2 linked regions of the Homo sapiens genome follow. The protein of the gene in region 1 purifies or fractionates together with the protein of each later gene. This does not show direct contact. Each region holds a gene or a part of one and is shown in the gene's direction. Other genes may lie near its edges.

Evidence for each region. The genes of interacting proteins can lie anywhere in the genome.
Region 2: the proteins of BTBD9 (region 1) and LTO1 purify together in Homo sapiens (co-immunoprecipitation; one large-scale study listed by IntAct). This does not show direct contact.

The regions. Positions count from the first base shown.
Region 1 is NC_000006.12:38,591,430-38,594,929, reverse strand, and holds part of BTBD9 (BTB/POZ domain-containing protein 9), read left to right. Parts: intron 1-554; exon of another isoform or gene 555-594; coding exon of another isoform or gene 595-602; coding exon 603-966; intron 967-2,089; coding exon 2,090-2,354; intron 2,355-3,500.
Region 2 is NC_000011.10:69,665,354-69,668,853, reverse strand, and holds the end of LTO1 (protein LTO1 homolog), read left to right. Parts: intron 1-841; coding exon 842-959; intron 960-1,266; coding exon 1,267-1,335; 3' UTR 1,336-3,291; downstream 3,292-3,500. UniProt on the Homo sapiens protein: The complex LTO1:YAE1 functions as a target specific adapter that probably recruits apo-ABCE1 to the cytosolic iron-sulfur protein assembly (CIA) complex machinery. May be required for biogenesis of the large ribosomal subunit and initiation of translation.

The DNA.
Region 1 (3,500 bases):
TTACTTCCCTAGAATTGAGTCCTAAAAGAGAGATTACTGAGTTGAAGGGTATGCACATTTTAGATTTGACTAGATGCTACTAAATTACTTTCCATAAAGGGCTGCCATTTATACTCTCAAAGCAGCATATCAAAGAACATGTTTTTCCATTGCTTTTGCAGCACTGATATTAACAAGCCTTTTAATTTCTGCCAGTCTTACAGGGGAGAATGGCATCATATTAGTGTTTATCTGATTATATCTTTTCCTATAGAGTTTTACTTTTTAAATTGCCTTATTGACCTTTAACATCTTTATATCAACTTCATTGTGCCTCTCAAAAGATCACTCTCATCTTTCTATTTAATATCTGTCACATATCTTGAGCTTTCAGAGTATCTCATTAGTTCAGTGGCTTACAGAATTAATTCAAATAGTTTTAAAATCATTCCTCTTGTGTCCTGTAAAGAACCATTTTAAATGATTACTTTGCATTTTTTCACTTGGATCTTTGTGTCATTAAAAAAATTTATATTTGCATAATGTTGATAACTGTTATTTCCAATATTTTGTAGCAAATCCTATTTGAGGGTTTCTTCATGTGTTTCTTCCCTGATGTGCAGAGCATTATTATATGGTGGAATGCGAGAGTCTCAGCCTGAAGCAGAAATTCCTCTCCAAGACACCACTGCAGAAGCATTCACAATGCTACTCAAATATATCTACACTGGGCGGGCAACGCTGACAGATGAGAAGGAGGAGGTGCTGCTGGACTTTTTGAGCCTGGCTCATAAATATGGATTTCCAGAGCTAGAGGATTCTACCTCTGAGTATCTCTGCACCATACTTAACATTCAGAATGTCTGCATGACTTTTGATGTTGCCAGTCTCTACTCACTTCCCAAGTTAACTTGTATGTGCTGCATGTTTATGGATAGGAATGCTCAGGAAGTCCTCTCAAGTGAAGGTTTCCTCTCCCTTTCTAAGGTGTGTCATTTGTCTACAAGTAATTTATAGGCATGCATTGTTTTATTTATACCTATACTGTAGAAGTATAGCAATGGACTAAGAATAATAAAAAAAATCATTGGTATCAAAGCGTTATCATTGGTTATCTGGTCTAGCCACTTGCATCTAGCTACCAGGACTCTAGATCATAAAAGAGAGGGGCTGGTTGGTTGTGTTTTCTTTTAAGGTTCTTCAGGTAAGTTTTATGTGCAAAAGAGACTGTGCTGCTGTGTGGTTGTTTTCAAGGTAGTGACAATCAAATAGGGTCCTTTTTGGTATTGCATACTACCTTTTGGTTTTGTTTTTCTCTGACAGAGAGTGTGACTAATAATTCCTTAGAGCAAGCAGGCAAATTCATAGAGGAGATCTGATGCAACATTTGATGTCTTTAAGTCCCTGCTTTTTTTGCTGGCTTAAAATTCAGTATTATAGCTAGAGTAAAACTGTTTTGCTCAAATCTTCCTTTGAACTCTGGGTAGTGATTGTCTCTCCATTTGCCTTGTTGTGTTCCTTCTAGAACCTGGATATTTCTAATGAGAAAAATCTATTGAAAAGCTACATATCTTGATTTGAGTGTAAATTAAGATCTGTGTTATCCTATTTCATTTTTTTCTACTTAATTTTTAAAGACAATGATCTTTGAGGGTTGCAACATTGTTCCTGGAGGTCAGTTTGGAGATCTGAGAGCCAAAAGTATGGTAGTGAAGTAATACTGTGGAACAAAATTTGAATTTTAAATGCCAAATATGTCTTTCTAACTTAACAATGTACACTCTCTTGAAGAATCTGAATGTATTGACAGCTTTTCACTTTGGCGTTTTTCTTTTTGCTGTTTTAAAAAAGATGAATGCAGATGTGTTTGGAAAGATTAAATGTTTGATGTAGTGGTACAAGATACCTGAACATAAAAGAATGGTGCTACCGTCTTGGTTGTTTACACAGCCATAATGAGTAGGAGAATATGTGGCACAAAGCATAAGGGAAGGAGAGGGTCAAAAAGAGTTAATTGGCTAAGTTATACTTGTCCTGTAAGCTTTTACTGATTGGTCATGCAGTGGTTGAACTTCATATAACTGGAATTTTACCTTTTTATCCTTTTCAGACAGCACTTTTAAACATCGTGTTAAGAGACTCATTTGCAGCTCCCGAAAAAGATATTTTCCTAGCCTTATTAAACTGGTGTAAGCACAATTCAAAGGAGAATCATGCTGAAATCATGCAGGCTGTGCGTTTACCTCTCATGAGCCTCACAGAGCTTCTGAATGTTGTGAGGCCTTCAGGACTGCTGTCTCCTGATGCCATCCTGGATGCCATTAAAGTGCGATCTGAGAGCCGGGATATGGACCTCAATTATAGAGGCATGCTCAGTAAGTACCTGTCTATCCTAAACTCAACCAAGAAGCTTGGTATGCCTCTCATGCCATTAAAACCGCAAAGCTACTACAGAACCGTGTAGTGCAGGTGTACATGAAATATGTACGTTTATAAACAGCTAGCCTATGGAATGTCTTTCCCTTTCATTTTCCTGTTAATTCCTCCTGAGATTGATTAGCTTTTGTAGACCCCCAAATAGGTATTTCTTGCCATTCCTGGACAGATTTCTCAACTCCTCCCCAGAATGTCAGAAATGGACACTTTCCTAAAAAGCTGCTGCTCATGTTAAGACCTTTTCTTCCTTCCTCCATCAAATAAATACTGAGTACATTCTATGTACTTATTATTTTGGGTACCATGAACATGGAGATTCTTTTTTTTTTTTTTGAGATGGAGTTTCACTCTTGTTGCCCAGGCTAGAATGGAAGTTGCAATCTCGGCTCACTGCAACCTCGCCTCCCAGGTTCAAGCGGTTCTCCTGCCTCAGCCTCCTGAGTAGCTGGGATTACAGCCACCCGCCACCACACTCGGCTAATTTTTATTTTTAGTAGAGACGGGGTTTCACCATGTTGGCCAGGCTGGTCTCAAACTCCTGACCTCAGGTGATCCACCTGCCTTGGCCTCAGAAAGTGCTGGGATTACAGGCATGAGCCACCACGCCCGGCTGAACATGGAGATTCTAAATAACAATAATAATAGCTAACACTTATGTAACATACATACATAAGGTAGCTAACACTTATGATACTTATCACCACTTAAGTGGTGATTTTTCTTATTAATGGATTTATAGCAATTAACACTTACAGAGTGCATAGTATGTATCAAGAACAGGTCCTACACGATTTAATTCTCACAACTCTTTGAGGTATATACTGTTATTGACTCCATTTTACACAATGAGGAAACTGAAACAGAGAAGTTAAGTAACTTGCCCAAGGTCACACAGAAAGATGACAGAGCTGAGAGTCAAACCTATGTAGTTTGGCTCCAGAAGTTGTGTAATTAACCACTAAACTATGCTGCATAATTGTTAAACATAGTCTCTGCCTTTGATCCTTTTAATTTCATTGTGGAAATAAGACATAAACTCCCATGAAAAGTTAAATACAACAATATTCAAGGGAGTACATGTTATA
Region 2 (3,500 bases), on another chromosome or scaffold:
GTTTCACCATATTGGTCAGGCTGGTCTCGAACTCCTGACCTCAGGTGATCCACCCTCCTCGGCCTCCCAAAGTGCTGGGATTACAGGCGTGAGCCACCGAGCCCGGCCCATGTCAGTTATTTAATCCTCTTGAAAGTCTGTGAGGTTGCTGTTACTCTCCCCATTAAAAAAAAAAAAACAAAACAGAAATTAATTTCTCACCATCTGGAGGCTGGGATGCCCCCCATTTTACAGATGAGGCCAGCAGGGTTGAAAGCAGGTAGAGAGGTGTTGGGGAGATGTCATGCCCAGGGCTGCTGTCTCCTGAGTGCACAGCCTTTCTGCAGAACCTCCTTGCCTCCCCAGCAAAGCTGTTTCCTCCCTGGGGAGGGGACAGTACTGATTTCCGCCTTTGGAGGGAGGGGTTTGCTGGTTTACCTGCAGCTGAACTTTGGAAGGCTTTGAGCACAAAGAATCCAGATCCTGGAAAATCCCCAGACCCAGAGCAGGCCTGCTCGTGCCCAGCCCCAGTCCCTCTTGCCCAGTTCTGTCTGTTTCTGCATGTGTGACCTCGAGAGTCAGCAGGGCTTCTGGCTGCCTCAGCCCCTTGGCCCCGTGGTCGGAATGGAGGCGTGTCTGTAAGCTAGGCACACACTTGCTGTCGAGGCACTGGGTATGGGCCTAAGCTCGTTGCTAGGTAAATAAATATGATTTCGTGTAATGAGAAAATAATCATCCAGCTTTTGAACGAAGGCATTCTTAGCGCACCTGCTGGGTTTCAGGAAGCCAGCAGCATAGCTGTTGTGTAAGTTGAGCCTGTTGTGTGCACATGACTGAGAGTCTGTATTTCTGTGCTTTACAGCAGAAAGATGAAGGTCTTAGAATCATTGATTGGAATGATCCAGAAATTCCCTTATGATGACCCTACTTACGATAAACTCCATGAAGACTTAGACAAGATCAGAGGAAAATTTAAACAGGTGCGTGCACTGTGTGTTTCCTCCTGCTAGGAGCACCTGATTGCGCCTTTCCCAGGCGGGGCAGCGCACTCCCGGGGCCGCTGCGGCAATGGCCTGGGGCTGCGTGCGCCGCGGAACTGTCCGTAGAGGCGCCTCATCCTTGAGTCGCAGTGCAGGAAAACTGAAGACAGTCCAGAGAAAAGGAGTTAGAACTCATTTATGGGCTGGCCACATAGACAGGAAAAGCTATAGCTAGAGATAGAGTTATCTTCTCATTTTTCAGTAAAAATGCACAAGATTAAAAATACCATCTCTTTTGTGTTTTCAGTTTTGTTCGTTACTCAATGTTCAGCCAGACTTTAAAATTAGTGCAGAAGGTTCCGGACTTTCATTTTGAGGAGGATGGATGAACAGAGACCGAACGTCGAGGAACAGATGTGTGTGTGACGTGTTTAGAAATGCGGTGAAGGGCCAGACGGTGCTGGGAAGGCAGTTGTTCATTGGGAGGGTGAGGGTTCCGGTTCGGCCGTGGGAGGGCTTCCTTCCCTGGGGTTTTCTGCCTGTGTCACCTTGGTGCCCGTCTTGGGGCCTCGCCACACATGCCCTTTGTTGGGCTGAAGCCGTCCCTGGCAGAGCCCTCGTGCATTGACTTGACAGCCTCTCCGGCAGCACAGGCCTAGCTGGTTCTGGGTTGGAGTTGGCTCTGGATAGGGTCAGTCACCAGGCCTGGACTGAAGGCAGTTATTTTTATTATTATTATTATTTGCAATGAGAGAGATGGTTGGCCCCGAATGAGGCTCATGGGAGGTTTGGACGGGTGCTGTGCCGCATGTCGAGGCCGATTGTGTGCCAGGCGGTGCGGGACGTGCCTCCCGTGTGTTATTTAATCCCTTCAGGAGCCCACAAGATGGGTGTTATTCTCATTTTACAGAGGAGGGAGGGGAGACGCGAAGGGATTGCCTGGTCTAAGGGCACCCAGCAGCAGAGCTAGGACTTCCGCCCTAAGGCTGTGCCTCACTGCCACCAGGCACAGCCGCCTCCGGAATGCACAGGCGAGTCCCTGCCCTCCCTCCCAGGCCGCACAGGTCCTGCCAAGCCTCACGGAGCACGGGGGAGTCTGTGGTGGCCAGTTTACCTGGGCATCTGGCTGAGAGGAAGAAAGGCCAACCTGATCCTGAGGGGACCCAGACATATCCTTTGCACTGTCCCTAGAGGGGCGATGAGCTTTGCAGCATTAAAAAATGGTGAAGGGGGGAAATATTTTGAACCAAAGACCAAATGTTAGGCCGCCGTTATATTTGCAGAAGCTTTGAGAACCATGCGTATAGCCTCCTGCATTCTCCCCTCTCCTAGGAGCTCTTTTGTCTCTGTCCTTACGAGGCGTCATACAGAGGCAGTGGGGTGGGCACAGATGAGCAGAGTGGATGGTTCGGTGGGTCCCCACGAGGCGAGTGGTGGTCATATGTGATGGCACGTGTTCACACACCCTCCTGTGTACCCCCCCAGGGTCACCGAAGTCCCCACACGCTGGCTCTCCACACCCCTCCTGTTCCAGAAAGCATGTCCGAAAGCAGTCCAGGAGATTATTAAGGGGTCGCCATGAATCCACTTTGGTTTTAAAACCATTCCCGAATGTCCTAGTGGATTGTGTTGTGCTGCCTAAGCTGCCGGCTGCAGGAGCCAGAGAAGTGACCCCCGCGGGAGCAGCGGCAGGTGGATCTCCACGGTGGCTCGCTTTGTTTTTGTTTTGTTTTTTCTTTTAAGACGGAGTCTCACTCTGTCGCCGAGTTTGGAGTGTATTGGCGCGATCTCGGCTCACTGTAACCTCCGCCTCCTGAATTCAAGTGATTCTCCTGCCTCAGCCTCCCTAGTAGCTGGGATTATAGGCGCCCCCCACCACGCCCAAGTAACTTTTGTATTTTTAGTAGAGATGGGGTTTTGCCTTGTTGGCCAGGCTGGTCTTGAACTCCCAGCCTGAAATGATCCACCCACGTCCACCTACCAAAGTGCTGGAATTGCAGGCATGAGCCACCACTCCCGGCCTGCTTTTTGTTTTTGAAGACAGGACTTAGGTCTCCTCCTCCCGAACTCTAAACCTGCGTGTGTGGCTGTGCACCGCTCGTTTGTAGCGTCACCTCAGGTCTGGGGAAGTCTGTGCTGGCATCTCCTCATTGTGCCTTCATCAGAGCTGGTGCCTTCGGGCCAGAAAGACTCTCGTTCTTTCTAGATGGTGGGATCAGGGGCCTTTGCTGTGTTTCCCTTGGTGGATTTTTGTGTTTTGTAAGTTGTCTATTTTGATAATGTATTATTTTTATAACTGTAAAAAAAGTAAATAGCATATTTTAAAGTGAAAGTTTGGGACCATTTATAACACAACGTCATTTATAACACGGCATCATTTATAACACAACATCCAGCCAGTTTATTTCTTCCTCCAGGGCATTTAGGATCTGGATATGAAGGAAGACATGGGCCTTAGATTTCTGCCAGCTTGTCTCCTTAACCTAGCGTAGACACAGCCACTGCGAGAGTGCTCCCATTGTGTTGGGGACTGGTCAGCTC